Homo sapiens: one gene and its partner. The protein of the gene in region 2 interacts with the protein of the main gene of each other region in a biochemical or structural test. Each region holds a gene or a part of one and is shown on either strand. Other genes may lie near its edges.

What was found. The genes of interacting proteins can lie anywhere in the genome.
Region 1: the proteins of GLRX3 (region 2) and EED form a complex in vitro, tested with the Homo sapiens proteins (one study listed by BioGRID).

Annotation. Positions count from the first base shown.
Region 1 is NC_000011.10:86,261,736-86,268,765, reverse strand, and holds part of EED (polycomb protein EED), read right to left. Parts: intron 4,595-7,030; coding exon 4,503-4,594; intron 2,684-4,502; coding exon 2,550-2,683; intron 311-2,549; coding exon 205-310; intron 1-204. UniProt on the Homo sapiens protein: Polycomb group (PcG) protein. Component of the PRC2/EED-EZH2 complex, which methylates 'Lys-9' and 'Lys-27' of histone H3, leading to transcriptional repression of the affected target gene.
Region 2 is NC_000010.11:130,131,688-130,139,391, reverse strand, and holds the start of GLRX3 (glutaredoxin-3), read right to left. Parts: upstream 3,002-7,704; 5' UTR 2,972-3,001; coding exon 2,880-2,971; intron 1-2,879. UniProt on the Homo sapiens protein: Together with BOLA2, acts as a cytosolic iron-sulfur (Fe-S) cluster assembly factor that facilitates [2Fe-2S] cluster insertion into a subset of cytosolic proteins.

The DNA.
Region 1 (7,030 bases), on a different chromosome or scaffold from region 2:
ATGGCATGTTTTATTCTTAAAACAAGTTTCTAAATATATCAAAATATGAGACTTTAAAAAAGGCAACTTCCCAGCTGCCATTCAATTTAATAAACTACATAAAGTGCTCCCTGCCAAGTTCCAACATGCGCACACACATACACACACACACACACACACACACACACACACGATGGAAGTACAGCTTAACTGCAGTTACCATACCTTAGAAAGTATCAAATCGCCTAACCATCGCACACAATCAACATAATTCCTATGTATGTCTCTGGTAGAAAAATCAGGAAAATGGATTTTCTGAGAAATAAATGGCCTGAAGGAAGAATGGAAATGTAAAAAGTTAAAAGAAAAAATTATAGTAGAATCATACTCTTTTTCATTTTTGGATTTATAAAACTTGGAAAAACAAAATGTAAGACTATTAATTCCTCTGTGTTCCTACATAACCAACCACCTTATCTATTTATTGAAAGCTAAAGTCTCATTCCACTTTTGTTTATTTTTCTCCATTATTATCCAATTTTATCTTTGTCCTATGATAGATACTTTGTTTATAAACATTGTAGTTTCCTGCGTTTTACTATATATAACCCAAAATTAATCACCTCAATTCTGGGTACCCTAACCAATAATAAAGGCCTGATCAGTTTCTCACTGAAAATATACTAAGCTACCTACTCAGTCCTTAAAATTAAGCATTAATAATCTATGAAAGTCAATATATCTACACTATTTCAAAAGATAGTCATCTTTCCAGGAACAACTAAACATCATTCCAAAGTCTGCTAAAGATACATCTACAGTCCTGCCTTGAGCAATAATTTCTGAAAATGATGCCTTACAGGAATTTAAAATTTCTTAAGTGGGGGTGGGTGCGGTGGCTCCCAGCACTTTGGGAGGCCGAGGCAGGTGGATCATCTGAGGTCAGGAGTTCGAGACCACCCTAGCCAACATGGTGAAACCCCATCTCTACTAAAAATACAAAAAAAAAAAAAAAAAAAATTAGCCAGGCATGGTGGCGGCCGCCTGTAATCCAGCTACTTGGGAGGCTGAGGCAGGAGAATCGCTTGAACCTGCGAGGCAGAGGTTGCAGTGAGCCAAGATTGCACCACTGCACTCCAGCCTGGGAAACAAGAGCAAAACTCCGTCTCAAAAAAACAAATAGAACAAAATAAAATTTCCTAGGACTTTTCCAAATAATTTCTGTATTTAGGAAACTAAATGGCAACACTGTTTTCATTAGAGATATTTGTGAGAAGAAACAAAACAAGCTGCTATTAATTCTGGAGTTATTTAACAGTACACTTAACATTCCTAATATACTCAGTTTTAAATCAGAAATAGCTGTATAAGTATAATATGCCATGAATTAGTTGTCTTAGGCAATTCATATGTCCTCTCTTTACCTTTTCCCTCAGATATGTAAAAAAGCACTTTGGATTGGAGCAACTCAAAACAATCCTTCCAATTCAAATTCTGGGATATTTTGTTGAAACATTAAAATGTTATTCGTGATCTGATATAAATTCTTAACTCTGCTATAATTATATTAATTGCTTTTTAGCTAAATACATACTATAATTGTATGGCCAAACCTCTCTCAAAGAAAAAACGAGTACAACTGTTATTTTTTGAAAACTCTGAAATATAGTTTGTATTTATTCCAGATATCTAGAAAATAATCTAAAAATATAAATTTAACATTGTCCTACTAGCTCCTGGTGTTTTAAAGGAGAAAGGTAAAACTTTTAATAATTCTTAGAGGACACTTAGGTCTGATGAATGTTAGTGCATTGAAATATTTACTGATGCTTACAAATTTAATAATCTATTAACAATCTGGCTTGATAACCAGAAAATGAATTCTAGCTCTTTGCTAAAACAAAAGTGCCAACAAAGTTAACATGCAGACATACAACGTTTATAGTGAAAGTGTTAATGACAGCCTGATAAGATTCTAAAGACAGTTACTGCATTAAGAATTGAGACATTTCAAAAATATACTAAGAAAACTGCAAAATTCCCCAACCTATAGTACCATGAAGTGAGGCTCCTGCATTTGAATTCTCTCCATTTAATCAAGTGAGCATCATTTAGGGAAAAACATTATCATGAATTAGAGCTAAGAACTCCATTGTTTAAAACTGTGGTTTACCATCTTGAATTAGAATTAGCATCATTTAAAAAAAGTTAACATTATTCTAAAGTGTCCTTTACTCTCCCTAGTCCATAATAAGCTTAAGTGATTTAAAACTTTTACATTTATAACTTAAAAGGCCAAGCATATGCATACCAAAATACAAATAAGTAAAATGTGCTACTAAGTTAAGATGACAACACAATTTAAAGGGGATTTTGAAAACTAAGCCACAAACACTGCAAATAAAGGACTTCTTAAAGGGGTGAATTTTACAGTATGTAAATTGTCCCTTAAAGTTAAAAGAAGGTCTTCTAAACTCATTGTTGGGGCTTATATAGCAATTTTGGGAAAAAATAAAACTTATATTCAATAGCACAACATAGCAAATTGTTTCAAATACCACAACTGTTACCTGTTAGTTTTATTTGGATTATAATCATAAGATTCCTTAATTGCATTCATCATTCTCTTTGAATTGATCCTCCAAAGTTTAAGAGAATGATCCATACCACAGGACATTATTTTTTCACCCAAAAGATCATAATCCTGTATGCAAAACCAAAAAGTTTTATATAAATTACAGCTCCAAATTATATTTATCCAATTTTTGCCTAATGTGCAACATAGTGAAAACTGTATTTCAAATCACAATACAAACTACATTTTGGGTTTCATCTAAATAGGCCATAAATCAGAGTTTACTACTTTCAAGATTTACAGCTTTAATTAGTTTGTCAACATCGGAATATAAGAGCATTTACAATGTATAAACCAAGAAAAAATTACTTAAACTTAGTTTTATCTATTCAATTACACTAAAATATTTATTTTGCTTATTTTGAAGGTAAATTGAATACTAAGTTAAAATAATTATTCTGACACAAAGAGCTGAATAGTGATATTACTTTTCCTATCCAACCTCAACCAACCAATGAAACTGACATGTGCATGTGAAAATACATGAATCCTTAAAGAGCTGACATCTTACTTTATAATTCTAAGTCAAAATATTTTGAAGTTAGTTTTAGAGTTCACTTTTAAGTGAATTTTTAAAAGTCTAATAAAAAACAGATTTTAACTTTTTTCATTTGCTGTTTACTAATTTTTAACAGGCATGTAACAGATCATCTATTGTAACAACCTCATTTCATAGGCAGACACTAAGGCCCAGAGATGCTATTTAATTTAGCAAAAGGCACATAATGAGTAATGAAAATCTCACACACCTATCCACCTCCAGTGAACTCCTGTATTACACAGAAGAGCTACATACTGTCTCCTGCTCTCATTCTAAGAAATAACAGTAGAGAGTTCTATTGAAGGAGTATATTTTCCTTACTAACCTAGATACTATATGTTAATCCAGCCTTTGCATTAATTATGAGCACCATTTTATAAGAGCCTAAGAACTTTAGGCTTGATGTTTATTGAATTCACAGTTGTGGTACTTCTAATTACCTCACTGTCAACAGCAACAAGACATCCTTCGAGACAATACCACTAATTTGGAGTTATTAATAAAGAACAGTTCACTTGGCTTTTACACACATAAAGCCAGACGTAGAATGCTACTGCAACTTTTAGGAAATCCAAGTTGACAAGGTATTCGAAGGAAGGTATGATTCTCACAAAGGAATCCAAACTTCAACATAGGAATATTTTAGTACCTTCAACTAAAATGTTACATGCTGTAAAATATGGTGCCCCTTTACATAGTTTAATGGAAAACAACCTAAGAGATGTGAAATTACTACAGGAATCAAATGAGCTAAATATGGAACATAAGCAAAAATAATGTTAAAATCTGAAACCTAACTAAAAACACTTGTATAATGGACCAATGGATTACAATACATCAATATAAAGGTGGTATTTATCTTTAAACTGGTCTTGTATTATACCACGCCACCCAAAGAGAATGGCTAGAAATAAGTTACCTAAAACAGTGTGAGCACAATAAAACACTTCCAAATAGCAAAAAACGTTATGTTTCAACTTCAAACAAAAGATGGAAAAGCACTTTAATGGCTACATAGTTTAATTTTTTTCTTTAATAACTGCGAAATGGCAAAACAAACATTAACTTAGTGATTTTAGATTAAAAGGAAAGGAGCAAGATCATACTGCTCTCATAAGACTCCAGGGATTGGTATACAGTGCAAGTAATTTAAAAAATAAATAAATAAATATAGTCTTTACTTGTTTTATTCCTTCATCTGGAGATTAAAATCTTCTATGTCAAATGTAAGTGAATGTCTGCCTGACAGGCTACATGAAACACACTTTCTTATAAGGAAACAGTTCCATGGAGACTGTTCACAGCTATGTAAACCTGAAAGTCATTGCCCTGCAGTTTCCAACTTACAGCACTTAGAACTTCATCTCTGTGCCCTTCTACGCCTCCAAATATTGCCACCAGAGTGTCCGTCTGGATATTCCATAATCGTAAAGCATGATCTAGTATAAACATACAAAAATTAGGCGAATGTTTTTTATTTACTGTGAACTTTCAACATCTTGTGAAAGAAAAACTACTAAAGTCTAGATGTAAGTTATGCACAGTAAAGCCTAAAAATGGAATCCATATTACATAGCAACTTAAAATGTTTACATCAGATGTAGAATTAGCTAGGTAAGTGCTATAGTTTGAATAGGCCCCCCCAAAAGCATGTGCTAGAAACTCAATCCCCAATGCAATAGTGGTGTGAGCTGGGGCCTAATGGGAGGTATTTAGGTCATGGGGGCTCCATCCTCACAAATGGATTAATACTGATTATAAAAGGGCCTGAGGCTATAAATTCAATCTCTTGCTCCCTCACACCCTCTCCTGCCCTTTTGCTGAGACGATTCAGCATGAAGGCTCTCACCAGATGCCGGCACCATGTTCTTGGACTTCCCAGTCTCCAGAAACAGGAGCCAAATAAATTTTTGTTCATTATAAATCACCCAGTCAGGTACGGTGGCTCATGCTTGTAACCCCAGCACTTCAGAAGGCCAAGATGGGAGGACTGCTTAAGCCCAGGAGTTTGAGACTAGCCCTAGCAATATAGCAAGACCCTGTCTCAACAAAAAATTTAAAAATTAGTGAAGCCTGAGCAATAGAAAAGAAATTAATTAATCCATCAGTCAGTCACCTAGTCTGTGGTATTGTGTTATAGCAGCACAAAATGGACTCAGACAGAATGTTGGTACTCAGAAACGGGACTATTGCTATAAATACCTGAAAATGTGGAAATGACTTTGGAACTGGGTAACGAGGAGAGGCTGGAAGAATCTGGAGGAGCAGGCTAGAAAAAGCCTATATTGGTGTGAGTGGAGCATTGAGGGTAATTCCAGTGAGGGCTGAAAAGAAGACAAGAGCTTCAGGCAGAGCCTTTATCTTCTTAAGGATTACTTAAGTGGTTGTGATCAGAATGTTGGTAGAACAATGTTGGTCTCAGACAGAATGAGGTTGGTCTCATTCAGTGAGGTCTCAGACAGAAATGAGAAGTTATTGGAAAATGGAGTAAGAGCTATCCCTGTTGGCAGGGTGTGATGGTTCATGCCTGTAATCCCAGCACTTTGAGATTGAGGCAGGAGGATCACTTGAGGCCAGGAATTCAAGACCAGCCGGGGTAACATAGTGAGACCCAATCCCTACAGAAAATAAATTAGCCAGGTGTGGTGGCGTGTACCTGCAGTTCTAGCTACTTAGGGGACTGAGGCAAGAGGATCAATTGAGCCTAGGAGTTTTGGGCTGCAGTGAGCTATGATCATGCCACTGCACTGCCTGGGTGACAGAGACCAACCCTGTCTTTAAAAGAAAAAAAAAAAAAGCCAGGCCAGGTGTGGTAGCTCATGCCTGTAATTCCAGCAGCATGGGAGGCTGAGGTGGGTGGACACTTGAGCTCAGGAATTCGAGACTAGCCTGGGCAACATGGTGAAACTCCATCTCTACAAAAAATACAAAAACTAGCGGGGTGTGGTGGCATGTGCCTGTAGTCCCAGCTACTCGGGAGGCTGAAGTGGAAGGATCACTGGCATGGTGCCGGCATCCGGTGAGGGCCTTCATGCTGAATCGTCTCACAGCAAAAGGGAAGGAGAGGGTGTGAGGGAGCAGAGGTTGTGCCACTGCACTCCAGCCTGGGTGACAAGAATGAGACCTTGCCTCAAAAAAATAAATTAAATAAATAAATAAAAGCCATCCTTGCAATACAGTTGTGAAGAACTTAGCAGGACTGTGTCCATGCCCTAGGACTTTGTGGAAGGCAGAAGTTAAGAGCAATGAATCCAATACCTGGCAGAAGAAATATCTGAGCATCAAAGCATTCACAGTGATGCATGGCTTCTTCTGGCTGCTTATCATAAAATGAGAAATGATCTAAAGGTGAAATTTGTAATTAAAAAGGAAAGCAAAACAGAAACATTTATAAACTCTCAGCCTGGCCATGTAAAGAAAAAAAAAGCAGGCTGGGTGTGGTGGCTCACACCTGTAATCCCAACACTTTCGAAGGCTGAGGTGGAAGGATCATTTGAGCCCAGAAGTTCAAGACCAGCCTGGGCAACATAGCAAGTCCTTGTCTCTTCAAAAAATATATAAAATAAAAAAGCATGTTTGAGAGAGAATATTAAGGATGTAGCTAAGTGACTAATTGCTAAGGAGATTAATAGGGAAGAGAAGGCAGGTTCTATTCACCAAGACAATGGGATAATGACCACAAAGGCATTTCAGAGATCTTCAAGACATAGCTAAGACCTTGAGGGCAAGGTTTCCAGAGTAGCACCCATGGGACCTCTACATTCACTGTCCAGGGCCACTTCAGCACTTTGCTCCCCCTATTCCAAGGCAGTGCTCTTTGGTCACCCCATAGCTTGAAGGGGCTCAAGTATGGCTCAGGCCATAGCTTCTGAAGG
Region 2 (7,704 bases):
CTGGGATTACAGGCGTGAGCCACCGCGCCCGGCCTAATATTCTTAAATGTCTCCATCTTCACCAAAAAAGCTGCAGAAATGTGCTCCTTCCCCAGATGCCACACATCATTTATCACGTGTCCGTTTGAACTAGTCACTAAGGAAAGTGCACATTGTTTCCTGGGCCATTTCAAGTACAGGCCAGCGGCAAGGATACAACATCCAAATGGTACTTACATTTAAACTTTTATCCATTTTGGCCGGGCGCAGTGGCTCATGCCTGTAATCCCAGCACGCTGGGAAGCGGGCCCATCACCTAAGGTCAGGAGTTCAAGACCAGCCTGGCCAACATGGTGAAACCCATCTCTACTAAAAATGCAAAAATTAGCCAGGCGTGGTGGCGGGCACCTGTAATCCCAGCTACTCAGAAGGCTGAGGCAGGAGAATCATTTGAACCCGTGAGGCAGAGGTTGCAGTGAGCCAAGATTGTGTCACTGCACTCTACTCCAGCCTGGGCAACAGAGAGAGACTCTGTCTCCCCCCCAAAAAAAAAAAAAAAAAAAAACACTTTTATTCATTTTGATAGTTTAAGGACTTTTTAAAACATGAAGCATTTAAAACAAACATGTAAAACAGACAAAACAGCCTTTCAGGTGATGGTAAATTCAAAACGTTTACTTAGGGCAGGTCCACACAAGACCTGCTCATTTCAAGAGGCCACTTCTGGTGACTCCTGTGATTGTGCTGATCTGTACTGGATGAGTCAGAGCCCAGCTTCCATCAGTGAGTAAATGTCACATGTCCCTCCCCAACCCCTGCTTTTTTCCGTAACAATTTCCCAGGTAAACCTGAAATGCCTAAAGAGCTGTTTAAATAACACTTTAATTTCATCACCCCCATAAAGCATTTCTAACCATTAGTCAGTAACTCGCACCCCTCCCCATTTCCAAAGGCAACACCCCATCTCACCTGCACTCTCCATTGCAAAATCAGAGTACTACTTGCCTCTAATTCAAATTCAGTCGGCAAAATTTCACTCAATTTAGATCAACAGGGCAGGTCACGGGGGCTCAAGCCTGTAATCCCGATACTTTACAAGGCCGAGGCAGGCGAATCACTTGAGCTCAGGAGTTCCAGAGACCAGCCTGGGCAACATGAGGAAACCCTGCCTCTACGAAAAATACACAAATTAGCCCAGCGTGGTGGACCGCACGTGTAGTCCCAGATACTCAGGAGGCTGAGGTGGGAGGATCGCTTGAACCCAGGAGGTAGAGGCTGCAGTGAGCCGAGATCACGCCACTGCACTCAGCCTGGGCAACAGAGCAACAGCCTGTCTCGAAAACAAACAAAACAAAATTTAGATCAATAAGCATTTCTGGCCGGACGTGGTAGCTCACACCTGTAATCCCAACCCTTTGGGAGGCTGAGGAGGGCAGATCGCTCGAGTCCAGAAGGTCGAGACGAGGCTGGGCAACATGGCGAGACCTCGTCTCTATAAAAAAAAATAAAAATTAGACGGGCGTGGTGGTGAGCACCTGTGGTCCCAGCTACTCGGGAGGATGAGGTGGGTCGATCACTTGAGCCTGGGAGGCGGAGGCTGCAGGGAGCCGTGATCGCTCCACTACACTGCAGCCTGGGTGACAGAGCCAGACCCTGTCTCAAAAACAAAACAAAACAAAGCTTTTTGCCTGTGAATTCCATGAACCATTCTACTTCCTACTGAAATACTAAGTGCCAACATCTACTGAGTGCTTCCTGCATACTAGGCATTGTATTATTTGTATTTTACATACGTCATCTCATTTAACCCTCACAACAACCCTGAGGTACTAACAGGTGCTAATCTATGTCACCGTCGGGAAACTGAGGCTTGGGCATGAAACGTGCCCAGGGGTTACATGGCTACTGAGTGGCTGCGGTGGGACTGGATCCCAGGCAATCCGACATAAGAGTTCCCATAACAACCGCTAATAATACAACTAAGAGAACAACTCAGTCCTTGGAGTAGTCTACAATGTGAGGTGGTATTATCACGGAGAGTCCACGTGCAGACCTTTCCCTGCAGGCACGCACGCTAGTAAGCATTTACTCGTAAGCATGCTTGCAGTTCAGAGCTTCTAGTCCACCCAGAAAACGCTTTCTATGCATTCCTCTGGATCTCCTTTTGTAGTCTTCCCAGGGATTGAAGACCTGGACACCGGCGCCAAATCTGAACAGACTCTCACTACACCAGTTCATGGAACAGGAAATCTCTGTCTCCGGCAACAGGTTAAGTCTGAAGACTGAGGCTACCTGCTGTCCAACAAACTTTAAAGGCTGACTTCAAAAGGCAGCCAGGCCTAGCTAATGCAACGGGGCCTTCCCTCGCCGCTCTTCCTGCGACAGGGGCGTTCCTGAAGGGAGGCTGAAGAGCAATGGGCCGACGCCGAGCCTGCCGCTCCCTCCCGGCGGGCACAGGAAAGGTGGAGCCCGCAGCCGTGGGTCCCGCTCCGTGGCGCGGAGGGCCGGGGTCTCGGCGCCGCCCCGTCCCCCGCCCCGCCACTGCGGCACGGCTGAGTCACCACCGCCTCCGTCCCGCGGCGGGGCCGCCCAGGCCAGAGGCCGGGAAGGTCGCGTCCCCCGGGCTTGGACAGCCGTCGGGGTCGGAGCCAGGGCTGGGGCCGGGGCTTCCAGGCGAGCCTCGCGCCCTGCTCGCTGTTCCGGGGCGGGGAACCTGCGGCTCGGGCCACTCACGCGGAGGCTCGGGGGAGTCTACGGGTGGCGCCGGGCCCGGTCCCCCGAGGCCGAAGGGAGCCGGGCACCAAGAAGCCAGGCTGGGCCACCCGCCGCCCCACACCGGCCCGGTCTCGCGGCCGCTCCCGCTCCGGCTCCTCACTCCTACCGCTCGCCGCCCCGCTTACTTGGCTTTGAGGCGCAGCAGCTCCTCAAACTGCCCGGCTGAGCCGACCTCCTCCACGGCCGCTACAGCTGCCTCAGCCGCCCCCGCCGCCATGCTGCCGCCGCCAGACAGAAGCAATCCAGTGCCGGCGGCCGGATGTGGGCGGGGCCACGGGGAGCTGAGCGGCTGCGCGAGGGAAAGCCCCGCCCCTGCCTGCGCTGAGGCTGCCGAGCCTGAGAAATCCCAAAAGGGGCCTCGGCGGCGGGCTCTGGATCCCGCTGGGGGGCTCTGACCCTGCCAAGTCTGGGCACTCCGCTGCGGGCCTCCTGGCTCCCGGGGTTCATGGCTGTTATGGTTCCTGGCTGTCGGGGCTCCTGGCTTTCGGGGCTCCCTGGCTGAAGGGGCTCCTGGCTGTAGGGGCTCCTGGCTATGGAGGTTCCCGGTTATAAGGGCTTCTGGATGTAGTGGATTCTGGCCGTCGAGGTCCCTGGCTGTCGGGGCTCCTGGCCGTAATGGCCCCTGGCTGTCGGGACCCCTGGGTGTCGGGGTTCCTGGCTGTCGGGACCCCTGGGTGTCGGGGTTCCTGACTGTAGGGGCTCCTGGGTGTTAGGGTTCCTGGCTATAGCAGGGGCTCCTGGGTGTCGGGGTTCCTTGCTGTCAGGGCTCCTGGTGGTAGAGGCTTCTTGCTGTTGGCTTCCTGGCTGTCGGGGTGACTGGGTGTCAGGGCTCCTGGTGTTAGGGTTCCTGGCTTCCTGGCTGTAGTAGGGGCTCCTGGGTGTCGGGGTTCCTTGCTGTCAGGGCTCCTGGTGGTAGAGGCTTCTGGCTGTTGGGGTTCCTGGGTGCCAGGGCTCCTGGGTGTCAGGGTTCCTGGCTGTCAGGACACCTGACTCCTGAGGCTCCTGGCTTTTGGGGCTCCAGACCTTCCTTGCACTTCCTGTGTCTCCTGGGTCTGTAATAGAAGGGGCCGGTGGAGGGGTGGGGGTGAGACATGTGAGTGAAAGTGAAGTCAGATGTGTACATTTAGGAAGCTGAAATTATCAAAAATGAAATTGCATAAAGGTGAGGAAGAACTGGGAGGTCTGGGAACAGAAGTGGTAGATCTTGAACTTCAACACAGACAGGGTGCTTCCAATTCAGTCCTGGGACCTGAACCCGGAGCCCACAGCATGTCCCTCCTCCCCTGGCCCTCCGCGCGTGCCGCCACTCATTGCAGCCCCACAGAGCCATCACCCATTGTAACCTCAGAACAGAAGGGGCTGGGTGGGTCCACAGATCCCTGCACTCCTCCCGTCTTGCCTCCTTGGATGATCCCTGGCTTGTCTTTCTCCCTTGGGAATCCCCCTGATGTTGGCTCTCCATGTGGTGTACTCTGTACCCCACACCCCATGCTTCCCACACACCTTCTGGCCTGAGTAATCTCCATGCCCCCAGTGACATCAACCTCCAGGGAAACCTCAATAGCAAGCCCAGAACCCTCCCCTGCATCCCAGAGCCTAGCATCCACTAACTTTGAGGAGGGGCCATCTTTTATTGGATATCCCCAAACCACACTGGGCCTTCCCTCCAAAGTGCCTCTCCTCTTGGTTCCCATCTCAGGGAACACCATCGCTCCCACCCAGACACTTGGGGCTCCTTCTGACTGGTCCCCCTGCTGTCCCTGGGCTTTGAGGCCAAGCCCCCACAGAGCCTTCCCTACTAGCCAGGTGTTCCCAGGCCTCCTTTGCTTGCTTCTACCGTGGCCTGTCTCATGTTGTAGAACTGTGCTTGTCCTCCATTGGCCTGTGTTCTTAAAGGGCAGGAGCTGATCTGTGTCTCAGTGCCTGGATCAGAGTCAGACACATAGGAGGTACTCAGTCCATGCTAACAGCTGCCAGAGGACTGGGCTCACTGGATTGCAAAGACTTCGTACGAGAAAAGTAGCATATCATTCATACTTTTTATATTGATTACATGTTGAAATGAGGATATTTGGATATATTCGGTTTTCTGAAATATATTATTTAAATTGGTCTCTTTTACCTTTGGCTCCTGAGAAATGTCTAATTTCATAGGCAACTTTCATTCGTGGCCCTTGAATTTTCTTGGGCAGCACTACTGTGGTGTTTAAAAGCCTTTTGGAGCCTGTCACATGTATACCTCACCTGGAGAAATACATGGTATTGAACACGGTAAATTGTGTTATTTAAAATGCAACAGGAGAGTGATGAGGAACCATTTTGTATCTTGCCTGTGGTGGTGAGAACACAAACTAAACATGATAAAATTGTATAGAACTTGGCTGGGTGCTCTGACTCACACCTGTAATCCCAACAATTTGGAAACCCCAGACAGGAGGATCACTTGAGCCGAGGAGTTGGAGACCAGCCGGGCAACATAGGAAGACCCGGTCTCTACAAAAATATATATATATATATGAGTCAGGCATGGTGGCTCACACTTGTGGGCCCAGGTAGGTGAGAGGCTGAGGTGAGAAGATCACTTGAGCCTGGGAGTTGGAGGCTGCAGTGAGCCATGATCCTGCCACTGCTACTGCCCACTAACCTGGGCGACAGAGCAAGACCCTGTCTCAAAAACAAAAACAACGCACACACACACACACACGCATGCACGCGCGCACGAGTACAAGTAAAACTGGGAAAATCTGAAAAAGATCAGTCGATTGTTTATAAATATCAACATCCTGGTTGCAGTATTACAGTTTTGCAAGGTGTTGTCATCGGAAGAAAGTGTACACAGGATCTGTATTATTTCTCACAACTGCATGTGAATCTACAGTTGTTTTAAACTAAAAAGTTTAGTTAAAAACCATGTAAATAAGACTTTAAAGTTTACTATGAAAAGAATGCAATAGGAGGGAAAAAAGACACCATGTCAAAAAAAAAGAAAAAGATACCATGTCATAAAACAAGATACACATTCTGGTTATCACTTTTTTTCTTTTCTTTTCTTTGAGATGGAGTTTTGCTCCTGTTGGCCAGGCTGGAGTGCAATGGCGTGATGTCGGCTCACCGCAACCTCCACCTCCCGGGTTCAAGCGATTCTCCTGCCTCAGCCTCCCAAGTAGCTGGGATTACAGGTGTGTGCCACCACGCCCGCCTAATTTTGTATTTTTAGTAGAGACGGAGTTTCTCCATGTTGGTCAGGCTGGTCTCGAACTCCTGACCTCAGGTGATCCGCCCGCCTCGGCTTCCCAAAGTGCTGGGATTGCAGGTGTGAGCCACTGTGCCCGGCCTGTGATTATCATTTTTAAGTAGAATTGAATGTAAATAAAACATATAACTATATCAGTGAATGGCTCATAGAAAAGGGTCTCCAGAAGGATGCTCCCCAAATTATTATCAGAGCTTGCCTCCAGAGGGCAGAAACAGAGGAGAGCTAAAGGGAGGCCCTTCACTTTGACTTACACACTTCTTTGTGTCATTTGCTTGTTTTCTAATAGCATAGACTGCTTTTGACATTTAAAAAATAATGAAATTGTATTGCACAGGGGAAATGTGCTATAGTGAATCCTTTTCAAAAAAAAAAGCAGTAATCACCCCTCAAATGTGGCTGTTTTATAAATGCTGATTTTTCTTTTATTTTTTATTTTTTGAGACGGAGTCTTGCCCTGTCACCCAGACTGGAGTGCAGTAGCGCGATCTGAGCTCACTGCAAGCTCCGCCTCCCGGGTTCATGCCATTCTCCTACCTCAGCCTCCCGAGTAGCTAGGAATAGAGGCGCCTGCCACCACGCCCGGCTAATTTTTTGTATTTTTAGTAGAGATGGGGTTTCACCGTGTTAGCCAGGATGGTCTCGATCTCCCGACCTCGTGATCCGCCCACCTCGGCCTCCCAAAGTGCTGGGATTACAGGCGTGAGCCACCGCCCCCGGCCCGCTGATTTTTCTTTTAAATGGAATTTGCTGAAAGTGGCACAAACCAGTTGCAGAGCAGACTCTAAAAAAAATGCTATGAAAACTCCTGGATAACACTTCCATTTCTGCCCTTTTTGTAGTTTATTATTGTAGGGGCCACAGGAAAGCTTCTCCTTAGCCCTCTGATGGTTTGCTGAAAATCACTGACAAAAGGCAGATTAATAGGAGAAAAGATAAACAAATTTATTTGATCACAGTTTCACGTGACACGTGAAGACTCAAAGATACAGGGAAAACTGTCCATTTGTATGCTTAGGTTCAACGAAGTATGGACAGTTATGTAGAAATACGATTGGACAAAATGGGTATGCTCTTATGCTAGCAGAACTCACTGGGGGCTTTGCAGATGCTGACGCCCCCCAGAACCCCCTGCTACCAGCCATGGTCAATCCCACCATGTTCTTCAACATGGCCGTCAATGGCAAGCCCTGGGGCCATCAAACAGCCCTTCGAGCTGTTTGCAGACAAGATTCCAAAGACAGCAGAACACTTGCATGCTCTGAGCACTGGAGGGAAAGGATTTTGTCATGAGGGTTCCTGCTTTCACAGAATTATTCCAGGGCTTATGTGTTAGGGTGGTGGCTTCACACGCCGTAATGGCGCTGGTGGCAAGTCCATCTACAGGGAGAAATTTGATGATGAAAACTGTAGCCTGAAGCATACAGGTCCCGGCATGTTGTCCAAGGCAAATGCTGGACCAACACGTACGGTTCCCAGTTTGGCATCTGCACTGCCAAGACTCAGTGGTTGCATGGCGAGCATGTGGTCTTTGGCAAGATGAAAGAAGGCATGAGGGTCCAGAAATGGCAAGACCAGCAAGAAGGTCACCATTGCTGACTGTGGACAACTCTAATAAATGTGACTTTGTGTTTTGTCTTTGAAAAGAACTGACTGGGAGAACCCAGCAAGGCTGGTCTGGTGTTCAGATTCTTCCT